7 linked regions of the Homo sapiens genome follow. The protein of the gene in region 4 purifies or fractionates together with the protein of the main gene of each other region. This does not show direct contact. Each region holds a gene or a part of one and is shown on either strand. Other genes may lie near its edges.

Region 1 (3,500 bases), on a different chromosome or scaffold from region 4:
AACCTTTGCCTTGCTTTAGTGAGTAACTTGTTTGCTAGTGAAGATTGAAATAGCCTTTGAAAACCAGATCTGTATTGTCCTGGAGTGAAGCACAAAAACTTAGAGATGCCAGTGAGAATAGTTCATTTCCCCTTATTTGTATCAAAAGAGGGATTTGATTAGTGAATTCAAGGTGGTTCGATGTGGTTTCACCTTTTCATTTGTTTCCTCACCTGGTCGTAGTAGGCTCCAGAAGTCCAGGTTCTTGTTTTCTGTTGAGTGGATGATGTCATTAATGTGATTAGTGTGGCCACTGTGACATTTATTAGGCATCTCATGGCCCATCTCATTAGAACCTTATGGCTTCTGATTCTAATGATCTGCTCTTCTAATTCAAAGGTTTGCAATACAGCCTGCCACCTGTTTTTGTACACCCTGTGAGCTAAGAATGTCTTTATGTATATATTTTTTTTTTGAGACGGAGTCTCGCTCAGTTGCCCAGGCTAGAGTGCAGTGGCGCAATCTCGGCTCACTGCAAGCTCCGCCTCCTGGGTTCACGCCATTCTCCTGCCTCAGCCTCCCAAGTAGCTGGGACTACAGGTGCCCACCACCATGCCCAGCTAATTTTTTGTATTTTTAGTAGAGATGGGGTTTTACCGTGTTAGCCAGGATGGTCTCGATCTCCTGACCTCGTGATCTGCCCGTCTTGGCCTCCCAAAGTGCTGGGATTACAGGCGTGAGCCACCGCACCCGGCCTATATTTTTAACTGGTTAAAAAATTCAAAAGAATAATGTCATACCATGTGAAAATATAAAAACTTCAAATTTTAGTCTTTATACATAAAGTGGTATTGGGACACAGCCATGCTTATTACTTTATGTATTATCTGTGGCTGCTTTTGTGCTATTAACATAATGGTAGAGCTATATAGTTGCAACAGAGGCCTGCAAAGCTAAAAATAGTTACTGTCTGATCCTTTACAGGAAAAGTTTGCCCACCCTTGTTCTAATCTCTGTTGTTTATTTGATGTCTAGGAGGGGGCTTGTGAAGTGGCGAGGTCCTAGCTGGTTCAAGGGACCCAGATCACAGGCCCTGTTTGGTTGCCAAGTAGCTATGGAGCCTGGAGTTTGCTGGTTAGCTTTTGGAGGCCACTACCTCCTTGTCTGTCAGAAGGAGGTGACCAGTGAACCCACCTTCCTACTGCAAAATTCTTAAACATTTTTCTGTTTTTTTGAGACAGAGTCTCATTCCATCGCCCAGGCTGGAGTGCAGTTGTGTGATTTCGGCTCACTGCAGGAGTGCGATTTCGGTCACTGCAGCCTCCACCTACCCAGCTCAAGCAATCCTCCCACCTCAGCCTCCCAAGTAGCTGGGACCACAGGCATGCGCCACCATGGCTGGCTAATTTTTGTATTTTTTTTTGTAGAGACAGGGTTTTGCCATGCTTCCCACCCAGGCTGGTCTTGAACTCCTGGGTTCAAGTGATCTGCTTGCCTCGGCCTCCCAAAGTGCTGGGATTACCATGAGCCATCGCACCCGGCCTGAAAAATTCTTTGACTCTATGAAACACAGAAGAAAGAATATCCAATTGGAAAACTTTTTCAAGAACATATAGATTGACCCAGGAATCCTCAGTATCTGCTTGATTTTATTTATCTATCCAGAACTTCTCTAACCAAGATCTTTCCCCTACCATTGAACATCAAATATGGAGATGCCCTCCAGGACACAAACAAAAGGTGCCTCAGATTATACCATTTGGTGTTTGTCAGCATCTTTGTTTTCTAGTCTAATTTATAGGGTTGGATTGAAAGGGAGTGAAGGAGAAAGAACCTGAAGCAGAAATAGGGCTGAATGGGACCTTTACAGAATGATAGACCCACCCTTCTTGGAAAAAGATCCCCATGATTTACTTTTTTATAAATTAATTAATTTTTTAGAGACAGGGTCTCACTGTGTTGCCAAGGCTAGACTCAAATTCCTGGGATCAAGCGATCTTCCTGCTTCAGCCTCCTGAGTAGCTGGGACCACAGACCACCGTGCCTGACCCCATGACCTTCTTGAGTCGTTTAGACGTGCTAACTTGTCCTATCAGTCAGCACTGAAATACTATACCTTGTTAGGATGAGTTGTTCTGAAGCCAGAATGTTGTTTTTAGTTTTCAGGCACTGGTAAAGAAGATTAGAAGAAATACTTAGTAGCTTTGGATTTTAGTAAGACTTAAGAGTCGTTGGAGAATTTGCTGCCTTTGATGTTGTGGAGCCTATGAGGATATCTCTACTGAGTGTAGTATACTGTGTTTATTCTTTTTGAGAGGGTGCTGGGAAAGGACTTTATAGTGGGAACTTATTTAATTAATTCCTTTTTCTAGAAGGGACTCAGATTCCTAGCTTAGAGCAGGACACATTGGCTATGGAATCATAAAGACAGAATGACATGTGGACTTAATACTCTCAGAAGAGATGTCTGTCCACATGGTTAGGGAAACTAAGTACAGTTTTTCTAAAAATTGTGTTTCTGAGATATGAAATAGCTTGCTTTAGTTAGTTTTTCTGTTGTTTTTTTAATCGAGCTATTGGAGAACAATAAAGGGCATGAATAAGATTTTCGAGATCGCTCCTTTCATCTGTAAATAGAATCTTCCTCACTCCAGAGAAAATTGGTGTGTGATACCTCCTAGTCAGTCATCAGGACCCATGCTTCAGTTTGATTTTTAAGTCTTTGAAAGCTGTTGACCCTTTTGCTTTTGAGTTTCATTCACCAGCTAAAAGGCCACGCCATCAGGGTGACGGAAGTGAAATTCAAAATTTAGTGGGCTTGGAAAAACGCGTATTTATAATGAGCTTGAAGGCTCAGAGGATTTGTGAAATCGTTTTGGATTAACAGCCATTGATTGCTAATAAAACAATATTTAGCTTTGTCCAGAGAACAGCAATGGAGAAAGGTATGGGCACCTTGTCAACAGGCCCCATTGAGCAGGGATGATGGGCTAAGTGTGGGGGTCTCTGCAGCAGCGTGGGTGCTCGTCCTTCAAGGAGCGGTTGTCAGTCGTTAGCGAGGCGGGTGAAAGGAAGGACGCCAAAGTCTGATGGCCGGGGTGGTATTGATGTGCCTTCGCTGACTAATCAGATTGAAAAAGTCCCATGGTATTTATGTCACTTTAATTTTCATCAAACAATTGGAGACGACAGCACTCTATTAAGGAGAGGTTGATCCAGAACTAAAGCCAAATAAATTAGGGTCTCAGTTTAATCAAATTATCCTTTTACTGGCTCTGGATTAAGTGAGAGAGACAGCGTCGGTCAGGAGACTTGTGATTGGCTGAATCTTTCCCTTATTTTTAAAGAAACGGATGAAAGAAAAAGTATTTTAACAGACTACTATAATAATCCTTCCAATCAATCTTGCTAAAACAACAACAACAAAAAAACTGAATTTATTTCACTAGTCAACTGTGTCATTTTGTTGTGAATAACTAACCTGTCATTAAAATCAGAGTTCTGATAAACTGGCATGAGGG
Region 2 (3,500 bases), on a different chromosome or scaffold from region 4:
CGAAAATAGCACATTTCTTACACAAACACACACTCCTAACTCATAACACAGCAGGAACTACAGGGCAAACAAAACAAAACAAAACAAAAAAAAACCTCAGTGAAGCACCTTGGGCTTTAAGTGTGAAAGAAAATACTTTTCAGGGACAGGTACACGGCAAAATCCACAGCCTCAGGTGTTTGATTGAATGAAAGTGGATAAACACAGTAGGGGCTGGAGGGAAGGCAGAGCACAGTGAAATTTAGTTCTTCCTGGAGGAATCAACCTGCATGCATTCCTACAAGCACATGCTTTCATACTTGCCTCCACATACTTGTCTTCCCCTTCCCTCTCCTCTGCCTCAATCCTCCCCCAACTTTCTGCAGGGCCATTGACCCTGATGTGGACTTACTCTGCAGGAACTGAGAAACGTCTTCCAGCTGGGGAATGTTATCTTCATGGAAGCCACAGTACTTTTCAAGAAGTGGAAAAATGTGATTGTACTCATAGCAAGCATGGGTTTTATACAAGGACTTCAGAGTCTTGAACACTGTGCCCCATGTTTTCTTTTCTTCCTCCATGTATTCCACTCGAGGGATGGGCTGCCCACTAGAATACAGGCACAAAATAGGTGTCTCAAGCAGGGCAGGGGCACAGCAGAACGCAGGTTAGGTTAGCAGAGGGAGTCGGGGACCAGAACCTGTGAGCTGCCATCACTTGCTACAGTGAATTTCATACATTATTTGAAAGAGAAAAATTCCACATCTTGATATAGGAAACATTGTTGTTTTGATTTCCCACATGAAAGGGTGATTTGGTTAAGCAGTGATACAGGCTACAATGAGGATTTGCTCTCACTTTCGGGAAATCACTTGGTTTTTCTACTCTTCTAATTCTCTAATTGCTTACCTGGGGTAGAAATTCACTTACCTGCACGGGCCAGTCAGGTATCACAAAGCTGTAAAGTTGCAGAGATTGGCAATAAGGAGAATGGGGGCTGGCAGGAGAATATATTCCCTTTCTAAACCAGGGCATCTAAGTTAAAGCAACACAGTGTATTTTTATGGTGTTAGCTAAAGCAATTAAACCAGTGGGCTAAACTGGATTTAATATGTAGGCCACGAATCTGAGATCCCCTTTGTTTGGTAGGCATGCACTTATTGGGTTTGATATTTCTGCTCCTGGGAAGTTATAAAGGTATTTAAATACATACTAATTAAGATTCCACATTGTATACATATATCAAAACATCATGTTGTACACCATATTTTATATACAATTATATAATTATATACAATTATATAATTGTATATAATTAAAAATTATATACAATTTTTATTTGTCAATTAGAAAACTAAATAAATAAGTTCTAGATCAAGGATAATAAATAAATATTGGAACAAAGGAGAGAAAATAAATATATAAATCCATGCTAAGGTATAAAATGCCTCATACCTTCTCTTCACTGAGCTTGTTCAAGTACATATGCCAGGCCGCATAGATCCTGAATCTCTTGGGGAAGGGAAGGCTCACATATCTGGATTCTAGTAAGCTCCCCAGGTGACTCTGATGCAAACTATAGTTTAAAAGTCGTTAGTTTTAAAAGTCCGGGAAGCTCAAACTGGGTGGAGCCCACCACAGCTCAAGGAGGCCTGCCTGCCTCTGTAGACTCCACCTCTGGGGGCAGTGCATAGCCAAACAAAAGGCAGCAGAAACCTCTGCAGACTTAAATGTCCCTGTCTGACAGCTTTGAAGAGAGTAGTGGTTCTCCCAGCATGGAGTTTGAGATCTGAGAACGTACAGACTGCCTTCTCAAGTGAGTCCCTGACCCCCGAGTAGCCTAACTGGGAGGCACCCCCCAGCAGGGGCAGACTGACACCGCACACGGCCGGGTACCCCTCTGAGACAAAGCTTCCAGAGGAATGATCAGGCAGCAACATTTGGTGTTCAGAAATATTTGCTGTTCTGCAGCCTCCGCTGCTGACACCCAGGCAAACAGGGTCTGGAGTGGACCTCCAGCCAACTCCAACAGATCTGCAGCTGAGGGTCCTGACTGTTAGAAGGAAAACTAACAAACAAAAAGGACATCCACACCAAAACCCCATCTGTGTGTCACCATCATCAAAGACCAAAGGTAGATAAAACCACAAAGATGGGGAAAAAACAGAGCAGAAAAGCTGAAAATTCTAAAAATCAGAGCACCTCTCCCCGTCCAAAGGAACACAGCTCCTCGCCAGCAATGGAACAAAGCTGGACAGAGAATGACTTTGATGAGAGAAGAAGGCTTCAGACGATAAAACTTCTCTGAGCTAAAGGAGGAAGTTCGAACCCATTGCAAAGAAGCTAAAAACCTTGAAAAAAGATTAGATGAATGGCTAACTAGAATAAACAATGTAGAGAAGTCCTTAAATGACCTGATGGAGCTGAAAACCATGGCACGAGAACTACGTGACAAATGCACAAGCTTCAGTAGCTGATTCAACCAACTGGAAGAAAGGGTATCAGTGATTGAAGATCAAATGAATGAAATGAAGTGAGAAGTTTAGAGAAAAAAGAGTAAAAAGAAATGAACAAAGCCTCCAAGAAATATGGTACTATGTGAAAAGACCAAATCTACATCTGATCGGTGTACCTGAAAGTGACGGGGAGAATGGAACCAAGTTGGAAAACACTCTGAAGGATACTATCCAGGAGAACTTCCCCAACCTAGCAAGGCAGGCCAACATTCAAATTCAGGAAATACAGAGAATGCCACAAAGATACTCCTCGAGAAGAGCAACTCCAAGACACATAATTGTCAGATTCGCCAAAGTTGAAATGAAGGAAAAAAATGTTAAGGGCAGCCAGAGAGAAAGGTCAGGTTACCCACAAAGGGAAGCCCATCAGACTAACAGCTGATCTCTCGGCAGAAACTCTACCAGCCAGAAGAGAGTGGGGGCCAATATTCAACATTCTTAAAGAAAAGGAATTTCAACTCAGAATTTCATATCCAGACAAACTAAGCTTCATAAGTGAAGGAGAAATAAAATCCTTTACAGACAAGCAAATGCTGAGAGATTTTGTCACCACCATGCCTGCCCTACAAGAGCTCCTGAAGGAAGCACTAAACATGGAAAGGAACAACTGGTACCAGCCACTGCAAAAACATGCCAAATTGTAAAGACCATTGATTCCGGGAAGAAACTGCATCAACTAACGAGCAAAATAACCAGCTAACATCATAATGACAGGATCAAATTCACACATAACAATATTAACCTTAAATGTAAATGGGGCTAAATGCTCCAATTAAAAGACACAGACTGGCAAATTGGATAAAGAGTCAAGACGTATCAGTGTGCTGTATTCAGGAGACCCATCTCACGTGCAGAGACACACATAGGCCCAAAATAAAGGGATGGAGGAAGATCTATCAAGCAAATGGAAAATGAAAAAAGGCAGGGGTTGCAATCCTAGTCTCTGATAAAACAGACTTTAAACCAACAATGATAAAAAGAGACAAAGAAGGTCACTACACAATG
Region 3 (4,183 bases), on a different chromosome or scaffold from region 4:
CTCACAGTAAAAATAAAACAGGAAGTGTTTGTTTTAGTCTATATTTAAAAACCAAACTTGTATTGCATGCAATAACCAAACTAGTGATGTAGAGTTCTGCTATGAGAGCCTTTTCCAAATGATCCTGTAATCTCAAGCCATTTCATTATATAATGATCATTCAATGCTTTCAAATCTCCTCTTTCAGAACATCTTATGTCTCTGAGCCTGAGAACTGAATAATCACATACAAGTCAAAATAACACACTGTACCTGTTGGAGATGCTGTGTGCGACGGATCCCCATAGTGCCCATAATGAGGTGGAGAAAGGCCTATTCCAGGCTGAGGCTGAGAATACGGAGGTGTAGCCACGTAACCTTGTTGACTCATTATGAAAATATCATTCCATAGGATAATTCTACAAAAGAAGTCTGCAACAGAGAAACAAGAAACATGTTACCAAGACAGTTTTAGTTACGTAAAGCTATTAAAAATATAAACACTGTTATTACATGTTTATGATGGTTTGAGGAAAAGTACAGATATCAGGTACATGAGAAATCTTTGTATTATACAATATATCATTATCCCCTAAAAAGGGCCTAACCATAGCTCTCTGAAACTCAGTAAATCACTTCAATAATCCTGGGCAAATTCTCAAGCATGAGACCTGAATAATAACTCGCAACCACTTTTTTAATGGAAGCCTGAAGCATCTCACAGATAGTCTCTCATAGTGTTCCTATGATTTTGTGCTTTTGGTTTCCATGGTCACATTTCAGCACAGAGCACACCATGCCATTCAATTGACTGACCACCATAACTGCCAGTAGCCTGCAATCAGATGTTTTATGACTTACGTCTTTTTAGTGCTCATCTAATTAATTATTTTAATCTAGTCATTAGGACAAAGAGAAATCATAGTCCAACAAACATAGCAACAGACAACGTTGATAATGGGCTTATTTTATGAGTCATAATTTGACCGAGCCAGGTGGTCACTATAACCACTTGAGTGTTGTCAGTGGTTTTTCAAAGGCGACAGAATTTCTTTCTAATTTAAATCATATCACATCTCTAAGAACATATGCACCTATATTTAGGGGACTAAGGAAAAAAAGTGTAATTTTGTAAGTGTGTAGGCACACACATCACAAATATAACAGACTCATCTTGATTTTTTTTAAATCTTGATTCTAATCAGAACCCAAATTTGCTTTAAATTTTCTATTTTTTCCAGGTTTTAACAAAATAAGAGATATTTCATAGGACTGATGATTTAAAAAAAAAAATTAAATACGACAGAAAATGCTTTGAATGCAAGAGAAGTGGGTTTCCATTCTATGTCTGCCATACTTAACTGTGTGACATGGAATGAGCTGAAGAACCTCTCTAAGCCTCAGTTCCTTCTTTTAGAAAATGAAGCCTTTCCAGATTTCCACTGATTCTACAATTTATCTCCAGTTTATTTGCCCCATACAAGCATATTCTTCCTTTTGTTCTTTTATTTGCTACAATTTAAGATAAGAGATCAGTGATACCTGCTAAGACTTAGAATCTGTCTATATTCAAGAAATAACATTTCAAATTAAAAATTTGAAGCCTAAAATTTGTGATTTGATTTTGTTTCCATATTAAACTATAAGTTTCCAAAATAAAAGCAACCATGTAAAAATATTATGAGATCATTTCCTTCTCCTGGGAAGGGGAGAACTGAAAAAGAGGAGAGAGGCAGGCAAAGGCCTTCTGGTCCACTTTGTTTCTGACAACCCCTTTTTCCTCCTCCCACTTAGCAGAGAGAGACGTGGCAGCCTGAGCGCTGGTCAAGCTCATCCAACCAAGAGCACTTAGGAAGTCGGCACGAACACACCTAAGTAGCAGCCTGTTGCTGAGTGACAGAAAAGAGAGGCTGAGATGGTCACTCCAAAGAACAGGAAGCAGCCAGTTCCCTCTGAACTGGTCCTCAGAGGAATCAGCTTCCTCACGCAACCCAGTTTGCCACGTCAAACTTCCTCACACAGAGCACCAAGTTAAAGAAACCTGACTCAGCTTCAAGCGGCGACACGGCAGAAAGCCACTTGGTATAAGCAGGCCTAGGATCAAAATCTGGGGAGCCCCAACCCCAGAACGGCCCCCTGGCTCACTGTCACCCAGCAACTCTAGCCAAGGTGCACTTCTAACCCTGGAACAAGTTCGTATTTGGCCAGATCAGTTTCACTATTCGGATGTCCCGAGGCTTCAAGATATAGTTGCCATTTTTACCATGAATATTTCTAACATTTCCTTCCTTCAAAAAAGGAAATTAAGTTGATAAGGAGATGAGAAAACCGCTGGCAATGACACTCGAATGGTGGCCACTGAGGATCCTAACAAGGCAGTTCCTGCATCCCAAGGCAAAAGGTGGGGGCGGGTAAAAAATGCCCACGCCCACCTCCTGCTCCCCCATCCCGCCGGCCCCACTATTAAACTGCACTAGAAGGCTAAAGAACAAAGAATGAGTTCTCCTCCCGCCGCCACTGCCTCAGGTGAGCACCCGGCCTCCCGCCGCGTCCCCGGGCCGGGCGCCGCAACCCGCTCCGCTGTGCCTGGGCAGGGCTGTCCCGCATGAAGGCGTCCGCGGGTGGGAGGCTTTACCTGTTCCCGCTCCCGCACCCCGCGGGCTTCCGAGCGCTGGCGGCTCTGCGCCTAGTGCCGGCAGCCCTCGGTGGCCGGGCTCCCGCTGCGGTCGCTTCTCCCGCCGCGCCTCTTCCCCGGCCGGCGTCCCCTTAGCCTGGACTCACGCTCGGAGTTGCAGCTGGGCTGGGAACTGCCACGTCAAACCCTTTCTCGGCTGCGCGCCCCCAGCGCCGGGCTTGGACCAGCCGCCGCGCTCCCGCCTGCGCACGCGCACAGCCACCGGCCGCCGCGGGGCGGGGCCACCGGGCTGAGCCTGCGAGCGGCCGAGCGACCTCCCCCTTTTCGCTTTTTCCCTTTTTCCGGTTTTTTGTTTTTTGGTTTTCTTTTTCCCGTCTTTTCTTTCCCCTCCCCCTACAGGTCAAAGCCTTTAACGTCGTGGCTAAATCAGAACCGTATTTTCTCGGCGCAGCCCCGCAGGAAGGAGGGGAGCGCGTTCATTCATTCTTCCATCAACAGGTTGCAGTTTCAGCTCTTCATTCATTACGTATTACTTAAATAACTAATAGTTCAGGTACTGCACTACCGTTACATACGGGAAAGTACACGATCTGGACCTAGGGGAGATTACCGTTTAAAGGCGAATCTGGCACGTGTACACGCACATTTGATGACGTACCCGTGCAATGCACTACAGAGGAAGGAACGCCCAAAGCAGCCTGGCAACGTGTAACGCGGGAGGAGTGGGGGGTGGGGGAGATGTCCCAAAGGAAAAGTGTGGGAAGTGGGGTTTCCATTGATATTGGGGTTGTTAGCGTTGTGTATACTCCTTCTTCCGCATATTCCTTGTTTGTGAAGTAGGATGGCTGATCCCAGCCCCAAACAGGAATCTCTGCATGGAAAAGCACCCAGCGTTTAGCTCACCGTCCTGTGAGAAACAGCTCAGAAATAAAGGCAACCTATATGAGATCTGGAGCTTACCTCTCTATCTCACCCTAAAATCAGGACCATCTGGCTGGTTTCCTATCATCTTTCACTGCTAAATAGAAAGACATTCAGCCACTCCCAGGTTTGGTATAGCTACCACTTTGCTCAAACTTACAAAGTAAAAACCAGCCCGGTGTTGTTGTTTTTAACATGCACTTTCTTCCCGGCTACAAGAAAGCCACTTGACAAATACCTTTACTGATGAACTGCCTAGGTAAAAACGTACATGGGGATGTTGCTACTCCCGAAATGCTACATGAATTGTGCAGGAATTTTAAGTCATTTTAGCAGTAAAGATATATGGTCCATTTATCCCACTCTTAAAAGTTTTTAAGGCATGGGGCAAGGCACAGTGGCTCACACCTGTTATCCCAGCACTTTGGGAGGCCAAGCAGGGAGGATTGCTTGAGGCCAGGAGGCAGTGAGCTATGATCACACCACTGCGTTCCAGCGTGGGCAACAGAGTGAGACCCTGTCTCAAGAAAAAGAAAAAAAGATTTTAAGGTAAGATATCTGGCCTACATCCAGCTTCAACACTGATCAGGTTTGAAAACCCACATTGAAATTTTTGTTTTAAATTGTTTCTTGTATTCTCAATGTGAT
Region 4 (3,500 bases):
AATTGTGGCTTTCAGCAAGTCAATATACCATCTGTAAAATAAAGATAAAATATTACTCCTTGGGGTGCAAAGGTTTTGCAGGCTGGTAAAAGCTATTCAAGGCCTGGCACCATGGTTCATGCCTGTAATCCAGCACTTTTGGAGACCGAGACAGGAGGACTGCTTAAGGCCAGAAGTTCAAGACCAGCCTGGGCAACAGAGCAAGACACTGTCTCTATAAAAAAAATAAGTTTAGGCCAGGCACAGTGGCTCACACCTGTAATCCCAGCACTCTGGGAAGCCGAGGCGGGTGGATCACCTGAGGTCGGGAGTTCAAGACCAGCCTGACCAACATGGAGAAACCCCGTCTCTACTAAAAATACAAAATTAGCCGGGCGTGGTGGTGCACGCCTGTAATCCCAGCTACTCGGGAGGCTGAGGCAGGAGAATTGCTTGAACCTGAGAGGCGGAGGTTGTGGTGAACCGAGATTGTGCCATTGCACTAGAGCGTGGGCAACAAGTGTGAAACTGTCTTAAAAAAATAATAATAATAATAATAAAATAAGTTTAGGCTAGACACAGTGGCTCACACCTGTAGTCGCAGCACTTTGGAAGGCCGAGGCAGCCACATCACTTGAGGTCAGGAGTTCGAGACTAGCCTGGCCAACATAGTGAAACGCTGTCTCTACTAAAAATACAAAAACTAGCCAGGCGTGGTGGCGGGCGCCTGTAATCCCAGCTTCTCAAGAGGCTGAGGCAGGAGAATCGCTTCAGCCCAGGAGGCAGACGTTGCAGTGAACCGAGATGGCGCCACTTCACTCTGGCTTGGGAAACAGAGGAAGACTCAAAAAAAAAAAAAAAAAAAAGTTTAAAAAAATGTTCAGGAAGAGAGCTCTCCCCCACCCCTTTCCACCCACCTTTTTCTTCTTGGATGCCGTCTCCCAGCATGTAGTCACTACAAGTGCTTGGACATAAGTAGAGTGCCTGCCGAAGCTCCAAGTTGAGAAACCACACTTGAAGAAATGTGTTGACATAACAAGTGGCTCCAAGGTTAGTCAGGCCCACAAATGAGTTCTACAAAAATACAAAATTCATAATTATAAAACCCATTTTCCTTTAAACAACCAATTTCTAAGCATTATTCTTAAATTTTCAGATTAAAAATGTGTAAGACCGTCACAACCAACATGGTATAGCCACCTTAAGTTTCTCTTGGCTGGAGGTGGGGCATAATTTTCATGAAAGCCCCATTTTGGGTTGACCACAGGAGTGAAAAAGACTTCGGACGGCATCACTGCTCATCTCTAGCATATCGTCTTCTCCAGCCACTTAAATCTAAAATTAGAACAGTGGATTCTAGAAAAGATCGGTTTTGAACAAGCGTATATAGGTTTTATGTTTTCTGTATTTCTAAACTGCCAGCATTCAGCAGAATGACAAAGTAAAACTTATGCAGAAAACTTCCTTTATATTCTAGAGATTTTAAAGATTGGCGGTGGTAGAGGGAACTGGCTGCAACTTTTTCCAAAGATAAGGTTGGGAATTCCTGACCTTACAAAGAATTATTATTTTATTAAAATATCTATATATAACAAACTTGGATATTTCGTGAATGCTAAGATTTATGTCTAGAAAATTTAATGTATATTTTTAAAAAGCAAAATTATATATAAAATACAAGCCCTAGAAAGCAAAGTGCTATCATCATGAGTTTGTTCCCTTGAATTACCATCTCCTTTAAAGAGGCGTTAAGATTTCAAAATAAAACATGCAATGTTAAAGCAAACATAGAATCAGCATTCAAACTAAAACTATTATTTAAAGGCTTACTGAATTACGCAGCTGCCTGTTTTAAAGCATATCATTAAGAAGTGTTCCAATTCAAGTGGCTTAGAGTCTTAAGTTCTACTGCTTATCTTAAAGCTGCACAGGTTACCTGAAATCAGTAGAGTTTTCTGATCACAGGCCCAAAACAAAAGCAAAAACAAAAACAAAAAACAGCATATAGCAATCGCTTAAAAAATGATGGTTTACCTTTTTTCTCCTCTCACAGTTGGGATCATCGATGTTATGAAAACTATTTTCATCTATTTCTCCTAACCAAATATGCTCACCAATACCAACCAAGCAATTCGGATTTCCTTTGCAGTTTCGTCTAAGGGGAAAAAAAAAACCTTTAATTTTTAAAAGACCATAGTTTCATGAGAGACAAACAAATTAAAACTAAAATGAGATACCACTTCTCATCTATAAATTAGCAAAACTGAGAAAGTATAAGACACTCAGTTTGTGAGGGTGTGGAGAAGAAAGCATGCATATACTGCTGGTAGAAATGCAGTCACTAACAAAACTACATAGACAACTACCTTTAGACCTAGCAATCTCATTTCTGAGGATTTACTGTTCCTTAGGCTATACCTCCAACAATGCAAAATCTCACTCATAAGGTTATTCATTACAGCACTGTCTGTTAATTGCAAAATATTGGAAGCCACCCAAATGCCCAAAAATAGACAATATGGTACATCTATATGGCAGAGTACTATGCAACTGTAAAACACACACACACACACACACACACACACACACACACACAGCATGAAAAAGATATCTATGAACAGATATAAGGTAATTTATAAATCCAGGACACATTATTAAGTAAAAAAAGCAAAATGCAAAGGAGTATCTCTAGTATACTGTTATGTGTAAGAAATATATAAGGAAAATATACATGTACATATTTCTGCTCATTTTGTACAAAAAGAAATACAGAAAGGAAAAACAAGAGACTAATGAAATTGGTTACCTACAGAGCATGAGTGGGAATAAGGTTAAAAGAAAATACACCTTTTCGGCCGGACACAGTGGCTCACACCTGCAATCCCAGCACTTTGGGAGGCTGAGGCAGGCGGATAACAAGGTCAGGAGTTCGAGACCAGCCTGAAACCCTGTCTCTACTAAAAATACAAAAATTAGCCGGGCGTGGCGGTGCGGGCCTGTAATCCCAGCTACTTGGGAGGTTGTGGCAGAAGAATCCCTTGAACCCAGGACACGGAGGTTGCAGGGAGCCGAGATTACACCACTGCACTCTGGCCTGGGCGACAGAGCAAGACTCTGTCTTGGAAAAAATGAATGAATGAATGAATGAATGAATGAATGAATGAAAAGGAAATGTACCTTTTCATATAATGAACAATTTGGGACCATGTGACTGTTTCTCACACTACTTCACGCATGCACACAAACAAAAATAAATCAACTGGCTAGGCGTGGTGGTTCACGCCTGTAATCCTAGCCCTTTGGGAGGCCAAGGCAGGAGGATCACTTGAGGTTAGGAGTTTTGAGACCAGCCTGGCCAACATGGTGAAACCCTGTCTCTACTAGAAATACAAAAATTAGCCAGGTGTGGTGGTACACGTTTGTAACTCCAGCTACAGGCTGAAGACTGGAGGCTGATGCAGGAGAATTGCTTGAACCCAGGAGGCGGAGGTTGCAGTGAGCCAAGATCGTGCCACTGCACT
Region 5 (4,008 bases), on a different chromosome or scaffold from region 4:
CATTTCCCCTTCTCCTGGGCACCCTCTCCACCCCTGCTCTTGCTACCATTCCACCTTCTGTCTCTAGGAGTTTTGACTACTCTAGGTACTTAATGTAAGTGGAATCATAATATTTGTCCTTTCATGTCTGGTTTATTTCACTCAGCTAAATCACTTTAATCAACACCCTGGTTATTCAGTAGCTGGATTCTAATTTGTATTCTACTCTATATGCTGTATTTTAAAACAAATGTCTTGCTTTGTAGTTCATAATCTTTCCACCTAATCCTTAAAGACACTTCACTCTAGCAAATTATAAACTCAAGAGTTCCTAAGAACAATTTAGCCTATCGGTGTCTCTCATAAAGAGCTTTTATTGATCTACTTACTGAAAATGTCTTTAGATTGTGAATATTTTCATTCCATTACAGTTCATGGAACGTAGACCCTTTGTAAAATTCCACCTAGTATCTAAATAGAACTCAAGCAGGAATCAAACTTATTTGATCACCCAGGAAAATAGTTTATTTATTTGGGTTGCTAATATGAAGACTCTCTCTTTTGATACTATATAATTTCCCGATCTGAGATAGGGCTGAATTTGCTCTAAATAAAGAGAATTTTAAAAATAACAAAACTTATCTTTAGCTGGGGGAAAGTGCAGGCTGGAAACTACCTGAGAGACGTGAAGGTTCTCTCACCTTTCCCTTGTGGGCAGCCCTCAGTCATTAGGGCTCTACCAGCAAGTCAAGTACTGTTGGACAAGACACTAATCCTCTGGCGGTCTCATTGGGCTCCATTAGACCAGCCTGTGTTTACAAACCTCGTTCACATCACAGCATACACAGAATATGATACTGGTAGGGCACTTAGGTAAACTGAGGAGGTAGTGTGCTCGGCACCTGGAACCTACGGGCCGCCTGGTGTCGCGCACGCGGGAGTGTACGCTCTCAAAGAGCGATCCATCCGGCAGGACCGTTCCAGCTGACAGGCCACGGCCGTCTTACCGGGGACGAGCTGGGGTTCCCGCTGTTTCTGAAGTCAGCGGTCTTTTCCTCCTTGTAAGAAATAAGGTCTTTATATCATAAAGGTAAGCAAAGAATAAAAAGGCACAAAGGCCGCAAGCAACGCACACACGCAAAAATCGAACTACAGCACTCGACCCGCGCATTCTCCGCCGACCTTACGTCTCTCCCAGCAGGCTCCGGGAGCCACCGCGAGACTTCATCAATTCTCGCGAGATTTACCGGCAGCCATCTTCTTGGGGGTGCTGGGAGCCGGGAAGACCCCCTGAATCGTTCCCATTGAGCTGCCCTTCGCCTTCGCTTTCTTTACTTTTGCCTTTTCGACGTAGCCAACAAGCACCTGGTCCCGAGGCTGAGAGAAGGCTCGGGTCTAAGCGCGTGTCGCGCTTCCGGTCTGGGTAGATTTGCTGGGGAAGAGGGAAGGGGGAGGGCCCGGGCAAACCGTTGCTGTTTCAGCCCGGGCTGGGGGCCGGGGACGGGGAGCTCCTGGCACCCCGTGCACTTGTGGCCTGCGGCGGTCCTTGCAGAGCTGTTCGCCGACCGGGGCCCGCGGGAACCTGCCACCGGCGCCTCCCACCGCGGCCCACGCGGGCGGCGCGCGGAGGAGGGGGCGGGGGCAGCGGCGGCTGTAGCGGCCGCGACCTGGGCGGGCGGAGGAGTGTGACGGGCCTTAGGGCCGCTGTGGATGGTTTCTAAAATGATCATTGAAAACTTCGAGGCACTCAAGTCCTGGCTCAGCAAGACTCTCGAGCCCATGTGAGTATCCGGGGGATATCTCTTTGCAGGGATGGCAGTGGGAGATAGGCGGACCCAGAGATCTGTGCAGTTTCCCCAAGTGCCTGCGGTGGAGGCCGAAGCGGTGAACGGAGGTCCCAGGGTTCTGTGGCTTCTCCTCCTCGTCCACCTCGCTTCCAGATTCAGGATACCCCCGAGAGCCTGAGTCGAGCTTTATTTTATTGCTGAGCTGCTCTCGTTTTCCCGTTATATATAGACCGTCTCCAACCCCCACCCGCAATATTTTCCGGGGGCCTCAAAATCGGTTTATTTTAGTGAAACCGACTGTATTTTACTTCCTACAGATTATTTTACCTTGTTTTTCTAAATGAAGTAGACGGCCTTTATTGGGGATTCGGGCAGTTCTAGCTTAAATCACTCACGTTTCACCTAAATATAATTCCTGAAAGCAAGGCCACGTCTCCCATGTGCTGTCTGGCTCATCTGCACCTCTCTTCACTGATTGAAGATGTAACAGGTGCTGAGGTGGCCAGTAAAATTCCCCTTTCCCGCCTACGCGTTCGTTAGCTTGGAGAGGAGGAAGAAAATTGAATCTTCATCCATATGGAATATTTAGCAGTTTTAAGTGGGATGCTATAGATAGATTTTGTGTTGGGGGCTGCGGTTAGAGTGCTGAAATAGTCTTAGATTGGAAAATTTAAGGAGTGTTTTGACGACTTGTTAATACAAAATATGACATGGACCAAAGTGCTTAATCAGAATTGGTTGATTTACAATAATGCAATGGGGAAAATTCACGTATTTAATAAAGTTATTAGGTACCTACTGTATACTACGGGAGGCTTTGGGGATAGAGCTTTTAAATTCTAAAATCGACAAGACATAAATAAATCCAGATATTAATAGAGTTGTGACTATTGTAATAATAGAGAATCATGTAAAAGTGATTATGAGGGGGGCTATTTCACATTGGTCAAGGAAGGACTCTCAGAGAAGGTGACATTGGAGTAACATCTAAAGAGAAGGGACCATGTGTGTCAAAGTCTTGGAAAAGAACATTCCTTGCAAAAGGAAGAGCAAATGAAAGGCCCTGTAGCAGAAGTGATTGTGGTGTGTTTCAGGAAGAGAAAGGCCACTGTGGCTGGAAAGAGCCTTGTGATGAGGGAGAGGATATAAAGGCAACAAGTTGGACAAGTAGGTAGGGGCCACATCATGTATGGGAAGACGTGAGATGATTTAAAGCAGACAAGGACTGATTTAATTTTGTTTTAACTCTGCCTATTTTGTAGAGACTGAAAGGGCAAGAATGGAAGTAAGAAGATTATTCAGAAGTGTGTTGTAGGCAGAGATGTGGCTAGTTTGCATTAGAGTGATGGTGGAGACAGGCAGATCCAAATACATTTCATAAGTAAAATTAATGGATTAAATGCGGGAGATGAGGGAAAGGGAAATCAAGGGTGGTGCCTTAGATAACCCAAGCAACAGAATGGGTGATATTAGAGAAGGCAGAGAACAGGTTAAGGGGAGAAGGAAAGTGGATGGCTAGTTTTGATAATAATAAATACAGTAAGTATGAAGTCTGTGGGATACAGCTAAGTGTGATAGCAGATCATTGAATATATGAGTCTAAAACTCAGGACAGGACTGGAGAAATCTGGAGTCATGCAGATAGTATTTAAGACGATGACATTGTGGGAAATTTCATAGAAAAAGTGTGTAGGTAGGGAAGAGAAGAGGGCCTAGTACTGAGGCAGGAGGAAAACTGGGCTTTATGTCATTAAAAAACAAGTGTATGGCAAAAGAGAGGAGTTTATGAAATGCTGCAGAATGCATGAAAAAATGGAGGCAAATAGGTAGCCCTTAGATTTAGCAAAGTGGAAGTCATTGGTAACCTTAGCAAAATAGTTTCACTGGAGTAGAGTTGTGCAGATGGAAGTCCTATTTCGGTGTATTGGAGAGTGGGCATCATAGTATAGCGGTGAGGAGAACTCTGGAGCAGAATGTCTGGCTTTGAATTCTGCCTCTGCCACTTACCAGCTGTATGATATTGGGTAAGTTACTTAACTCAGGGCTTCCATTTCCTCAACTGTAAAATTGGGAAAATAATGGGTGTATATTAAGGAAATCTTAGACTACTGTCTGGTGTGTAATTAGCATTCAGTAGTTATTAGGTGAATACAAAACTTATAAATGTTTTGGATTGAAATAGCTTTCCTTTAAGCGTTCAGTTTCATATTAGATTTACTGCCGTATCCCTCCATCTTACCTA
Region 6 (2,312 bases), on a different chromosome or scaffold from region 4:
GTGCATATGTCCTGCTTGAAATGTTCACATTGTGGCATCTGAACAGGTTTCACTGTTTGTCTAACATGTTTGTGGGAGGCATATTTGTTACACCATTCTTTTCCATACTGTAACTCTGGATTCTTTCCATTAAAGGTTCGGGATGAGTATCGGCAGGACTACGATGCTGGGAGAGGAGGCTATGGAAAACTGGCACAGAACCAGTGAGTGGTGAGAGCTCTGTCAGTGACAAACACTCCTTTGGCCTGTTGAATTTGCTGAAGAACATCACCTAAAGTCTGCACACGAGCCCATTTTTACCAAGATTTGATCAGTGTCTTTACTGAGCTGGAAGCCTCTGAAAGTTATTAAAGGACAGAATCCAAAAGAATGCCTTTAATTCTTGTCTGAGAATCTTGGCCATGTGTCAGATTATCAGAACAATTTTGTTACCAGGTCAGAAATTGTGTTCTTTGACAACAGATTGGATCTGTAATGTTGATTAGTCTTTAGCCATAACCACTACACTTTTAGAAAGACAGAAAAATGTAAGAATTTGTTTTTACCATAATGAGTCTTAAGTAGGTTCATGATCTACATTGGGGCCTGGGATTATTTTTTTAATTTTAAGTTTGCATGAGATAGCCTAATAAATGGAGGTGGGGCCAGGCATGGTGGCTCACACGTGTAATCCCAACACTTTGGGAGGCTGAGGAGGAAGGATAGCTTGAGGCCAGGAGTTTGAGACTAGACTGGGCAACATAGCAAGACCCCGTCTCTACAAAGCACAACGAAAAACAACAAATGGAGTTGTGCTATGTTGTATTGCTTTGCACAAAATTAGGAACAGGTGTTTGACAATTGAATTTGTTTTCTGTGAATTCTAACCTCTAAAGGCATGCTTAGAGGTCAAGGACCTTCCTGTGTAGTTGGTGCAAAAGCAATCTCCACAGGACAGCACTGCTTCCATGCTTCATACATCAGGAAATGAGGCCAGAACTTGAGTATTTACTAACACGTTTTTCAAAAGATGTCAGTGTTATACCTAAAGCTAAAAAAAAGCAAGGGTTTGTCATAGAGGGAACCTCTAAATAATTTCAGGGGTAGGGGAGATGTTGTCAATAGGAAATGGGATAAAATATCAAGAGACAATGAAAACACTGCCTTGACATGAGGACCAGCAAGTTTATTCTTTTCATTTTCAGTGATGTTGGGAATGGACTGGGTTTTAAAAGGGAGCTTGAAGAGGGAATGTTTGACAGTCACAGAAGGTTCCTGCAGCAGATGCCTCTTTTAGCCATTTCTCATTTTTTTCCTCAAATTTTACCTACTGAGGCTCAAGCCTTCACAGTGAGCTGATGGTCTCTACAGGGAGGGGAGTCTAGGGAATTTATTTGGTATTTGTAAGGCAAGAGGTGATTTCTCTCTAATATATCTGAGTTATTGCTCATTTAAAACTGTTAAGTCCAGTATAATTTTCCCTGATATGAAAAAATGTGCATTTTTTTCACTTAGCAACAAAGTACCTTCTAATTTCCAATAGTCCGTGAAAGTTGGGGCTGAAGTACCTAAGTGTGAATGTCTCTCCCGTTAAACTGAGTGTAGAAATCTGAATTTTTAAAAGAGCTGTAACTAGTTGTAAGTGCTTAGGAAGAAACTTTGCAAACATTTAATGAGGATACACTGTTCATTTTTAAAATTCCTTCACACTGTAATTTAATGTGTTTTATATTCTTTTGTAGTAAAACAACATAACTCAGATTTCTACAGGAGACAGTGGTTTTATTCGGATTGTCTTCTGTAATAGGTTTCAATAAAGCTGGATGAACTTATCGTTGTTGCTGCCTGTTTCCTGGCCTATAAAGAGGGTTGTGTTCTGGAATTCCTGTACTCTGGATACACATGAATGAGTTCCAGGGGGATTCTATGAATAGTGTGGACAATTCGCGTGTCCATTTTGATTGACTGACAGTTGGAAATAACTATTGCTGCGTGTGAAGAGAGCGCACAGATTTTCTTGTGAAAGTGATCAAATAGGCACCAAGCAACCTCTACTGATGGAAGAATAGGTTAGTTTTCCAAAAAACATGCTCTGGATGATTGCAAGGGAAGGGAAATTGTGGGTGGATTAAGAACATCTTATGTTTCCTGGGCTAGAGAACACTAAATGTGAGTCTCTTTACTGCACCATTCTTTCCTATTTCTCATGGATAGCATCTGACCTGTTTCTCACTTTAATCGGAGAAAAGTGAAAATTCAAACGTACAGATGAAGGCATCACTATTAATACATGTTAGTGAAGTGTGAGAATTAAACATTCAGTTTCTCAGTCA
Region 7 (3,500 bases), on a different chromosome or scaffold from region 4:
AAAAGCTGGTAAAAGATGTATTTGTAAGCCATATTCTATCACCATCTCCTTTTTGGTGGAGATATTAACAATTCAATTATATCCAAGAAAATGCATCAGAAAATTCTATTTATAATATTCTATTGTGGTTTTTTTTTAATCTACTGAAATTCTGTCTTCAAGATTTAGCTTTTCCAAACTCAACATATGCCACATAAAAAAGACATGAAAACAGAAATTTTAAAAACAAACAGCATTTTACTTCAAAGCATCAGTATCCTGGACTCTGGAACTGCGATAAGAAACTTTTACTTGATTCTCATCTTGATTAAAGCCATAATTAGACAGTAGATGACAAAGCAAGGCCACAGCTAACCCATAAGGCAACTTGGTGAAAGTGAGGGAAAAAGCCTGTGTGTGCCATAAGCTACGTGCACAATGCACTGTCATAAAAGACAGGTGCAGACTTCGTCACACGAGGAGCACCAACTTTAACTACTAGACACGTCTGTAGATCTCTATTGTCACTTCAGGGCATGGACTGAGAGTCGTATGTTTCTAAAGCCACCTTGTAAGAATTGAACCTTTCCCCTATTAAGGGAACTATCATTTATTCCTACTGTTAGATGTCCACAGGAAAAAAGGTTGATTAACTTACAAATTTAATCAGAAGCCTTTTATATCCTAATTTATTTATCCATTCTAAGGTACATAACTGTGGTCTAGAAAATTAATTTTAAGGAAAAAAGCAAATTGATATCACAATACTTTTTTTTTCAATTTTTTTTTTCAATGTTTTTTTTTGAGACAGAGTTTCGCTGTCAACCAGGCTGGAGTGCAGTGGCGTGATCTCAGCTCACTGCAACCTCCGCCTCCTGGATCCAAGCAATTCTCATGTCTCAGCTTCCCAAGTAGCTGGGATTACAGACATGTACTACCACGCCTGGCTAATCTTTGTATTACCATTATTATTATTATTATTATTTTGAGACAGGGTCTCACTCTATCGCCAGGCTGGAGTGCAGTGGTGCGATCTCGGCTCACTGCAACCTCTGACTCCCTGGTTCAAGCAATTCTCCTGCCTCAGCCTCCTGAGTAGCTGGGATTACAGGTGTGCACCACCACACCCAGCTAATTTTTTTGTATTTTTAGTACAGACAGGTTTTTACCATGTTGGCCAGGATGGTCTCCATCTCCTGACCTCGTGATCCACCTGCTTCAGCCTCCCAAAATGCTGCGATTACAGGCGTGAGCCACCGTGCCCGGCCTATTATTTTTTTAAATAGAGACAGAGTTTCGCCATGTTTGCCAGGCTGGGTAGGAGAATCGCTTGAACCTGGGAGGCGGAGGTTGCAGTGAGCCGAGGTCACACCACTGCACTCCAGCCTGGGCGACAGAGTGAGACTCTGTCTCAAAAAAAGAAAAAAAAAATCATTAAAAAAAAATCCAAAGAAAATTTGGTGTAACACATGGCATTAGTCAATGGTGCCACACAACAAACAACCCCAAAATCTCTGCAACTTACAAAACATTTATTTATTTCTCCCTCATGTTACATGGGGGCTATGAGTCACTTGTGAGTCTATTCTTTGTGTCTTCTCATTCCAGGACCCAGACTGAACGAGAAATCTCTGAAAACCAGGCTGTTCTCATGGTAGAGGGCAGAAGCACAAGACAGACTGAGCCAAACCACACAGATGCATTTGACATTTTCTGCTTCAACAAGGCATATGTTAATATTCCCTAACATCCCATAGGACAAAATAAATCACATGGCCAAATAGAGTGACCAACCTGCTTGGTTTGCCCAGGACTAAGAGGGCTCCCAGGACACAGGACTTTCTGTTTTAAAATCAGGAACATTCCAAACAAACCAGGACAAGTTAACTATCCTACGTGGCCAAACTCCAAGGTCAAAGGGCAGGGAAATGTACTCCACAGAGGGATGGTGGGTAACATTTTGAAGCAAAAATACAATCTACCACAGACTTGAATAAGTCATTCACAAACAAAATCAAAATCAAAGAACTCTAAATTAAAACAATAAGATACCCTCTTTTTGTTTGTTTTATTCTCAGGTTAGTAAAGTTTAAAACACGATATTCAAGGCCTGGTGCAGTGGCTCATGCCTGTTGCAGTGGCTCATGCCTGTAATACCACCACTTTGGGAGGCCGAGGTAGGAGGATTGCTTGAGCCCAGGAGGTCGAGACCAGCCTAAGTAACATGGCGAAATCCCAGCTCTATAAAAAAATTACATAAATTAGCCAGGTGTGGTGGTGCACACCTGTAATCCCAGCTACCCAGGGGACTGAAGCAGGAGGATCACTTGAGCACAGGAGGTGGAGGTTGCATTGAGCCGAGATCTTGGCCACTGCACTCCAGCCTGGGCGATAGAGTGAGACCCTGTCTCAAAAAACAAAAACAGGAAGACAGGATAGCAACAAGGGACACAAACATTTTTTTTTTTTTTGAGATGGAGTCTCACTCTGTCACCCAGGCTGGAGTGCAGTGGCGCAATCTCGGCTCACTGCAAGTTCGCCTCCTGGGTTCACGCCATTCTCCCACCTTAGCCTCCCGAGTAGCTGGGACTACAGGCGCTCGCCACCGCGCCCGGCTAATTTTTGTATTTTTAGTAGAGACGGGGTTTCACCGTGTTAGCCAGGACGGTCTCGATCTCCTGACCTCGTGATCCGCCCGCCTCAGCCTCCCAAAGTGCTAGGATTACAGGCGTGAGCCACCACGCCCGGCAGGACATGAACATTTCTGTTTCTTGATCAGGGGCTGGTTACACAGTGTGTTCATTTAATGAAAATTCATCCAACTGTACACTTATGATTTATGCACTTTTTTGCTTGTATATAAAAAGGTTTTTTTGGGGGTTGGTTTTTTGTTGTTTTTGTTTGTTTGTTTGTTTGTTTGTTTTGAGACAGAGTCTCGCTCTGTCGCCCAGGCTGGAGTGCAATGGCTCGATCTTGGCTCACTGCAACCTCCGCCTGCCAGGTTCAAGTGATTCTCCTGTCTCAGCCTCCTGAGTAGATGGGACTACAGACACGTGCCACCACGCCCAGCTAATGTTTTGTATTTTTAGTAGAGACAGGGTTTCACTGTGTTAGCCAGGATGGTCTCGATCTTCTGACCTCGTGATCCACCTGCCTCGGCCTCCCAAAGTGCTGGGATTACAGGCATGAGCCACCGCACTGGGCCTTATAAAAAGTTTTTTAAAAATAGCATGTAAGGGCTAATGCCATTTTAAAAATAAATCAAATATACTCATACATCAAAATGTCACCATTAATAATAGTTACTCCAGGCAGTGGGAAATGTTAAGAGAAACACACTACCTTTATGTTAAAAATAAAACAGAATCTGTAGTGCAAAAGATACAATGTTTCCAAAAGGGATGATTAATTTGGAATGTCATCAGAGGTATGAACAATGTATCAATGACCATGAGAAAATTCACATATTCATAGCATACGATCTAGTCACTCTAAATCTGGAACTACATCCTAAAGAAATT

What was found.
Region 1: the proteins of USP48 (region 4) and HTATIP2 fractionate together in Homo sapiens (co-fractionation; one large-scale study listed by BioGRID). This does not show direct contact.
Region 2: the proteins of USP48 (region 4) and PAH purify together in Homo sapiens (affinity purification with mass spectrometry, with the first as the bait; one large-scale study listed by BioGRID). This does not show direct contact.
Region 3: the proteins of USP48 (region 4) and SEC24D purify together in Homo sapiens (affinity purification with mass spectrometry; 2 studies listed by BioGRID, with this or other methods). This does not show direct contact.
Region 5: the proteins of USP48 (region 4) and RBM26 purify together in Homo sapiens (affinity purification with mass spectrometry, with the first as the bait; one large-scale study listed by BioGRID). This does not show direct contact.
Region 6: the proteins of USP48 (region 4) and NCBP2 purify together in Homo sapiens (affinity purification with mass spectrometry; 2 studies listed by BioGRID, with this or other methods). This does not show direct contact.
Region 7: the proteins of USP48 (region 4) and CTPS2 fractionate together in Homo sapiens (co-fractionation; one large-scale study listed by BioGRID). This does not show direct contact.

Annotation. Positions count from the first base shown.
Region 1 is NC_000011.10:20,370,214-20,373,713, forward strand, and holds part of HTATIP2 (protein HTATIP2), read left to right. Parts: intron 1-3,500. UniProt on the Homo sapiens protein: Represses translation by preventing reactivation of elongation factor eEF1A. May also inhibit nuclear import by competing with nuclear import substrates for binding to a subset of nuclear transport receptors.
Region 2 is NC_000012.12:102,854,745-102,858,244, forward strand, and holds part of PAH (phenylalanine-4-hydroxylase), read right to left. Parts: intron 589-3,500; coding exon 392-588; intron 58-391; coding exon of another isoform or gene 41-57; exon of another isoform or gene 1-40. UniProt on the Homo sapiens protein: Catalyzes the hydroxylation of L-phenylalanine to L-tyrosine.
Region 3 is NC_000004.12:118,833,327-118,837,509, forward strand, and holds the start of SEC24D (protein transport protein Sec24D), read right to left. Parts: upstream 2,801-4,183; 5' UTR 2,615-2,800; intron 412-2,614; 5' UTR 371-411; coding exon 253-370; intron 1-252. UniProt on the Homo sapiens protein: Component of the coat protein complex II (COPII) which promotes the formation of transport vesicles from the endoplasmic reticulum (ER).
Region 4 is NC_000001.11:21,755,650-21,759,149, forward strand, and holds part of USP48 (ubiquitin carboxyl-terminal hydrolase 48), read right to left. Parts: intron 2,135-3,500; coding exon 2,014-2,134; intron 1,056-2,013; coding exon of another isoform or gene 1,054-1,055; coding exon 897-1,053; intron 1-896.
Region 5 is NC_000013.11:79,403,456-79,407,463, reverse strand, and holds the start of RBM26 (RNA-binding protein 26), read left to right. Parts: upstream 1-1,208; 5' UTR 1,209-1,689; coding exon 1,690-1,760; intron 1,761-2,697; exon of another isoform or gene 2,698-4,008. UniProt on the Homo sapiens protein: May be involved in the turnover of nuclear polyadenylated (pA+) RNA.
Region 6 is NC_000003.12:196,934,906-196,937,217, reverse strand, and holds the end of NCBP2 (nuclear cap-binding protein subunit 2), read left to right. Parts: intron 1-135; coding exon 136-207; 3' UTR 208-1,812; downstream 1,813-2,312. UniProt on the Homo sapiens protein: Component of the cap-binding complex (CBC), which binds co-transcriptionally to the 5' cap of pre-mRNAs and is involved in various processes such as pre-mRNA splicing, translation regulation, nonsense-mediated mRNA decay, RNA-mediated gene silencing (RNAi) by microRNAs (miRNAs) and mRNA export.
Region 7 is NC_000023.11:16,699,170-16,702,669, forward strand, and holds part of CTPS2 (CTP synthase 2), read right to left. Parts: intron 1-3,500. UniProt on the Homo sapiens protein: Catalyzes the ATP-dependent amination of UTP to CTP with either L-glutamine or ammonia as the source of nitrogen. Constitutes the rate-limiting enzyme in the synthesis of cytosine nucleotides.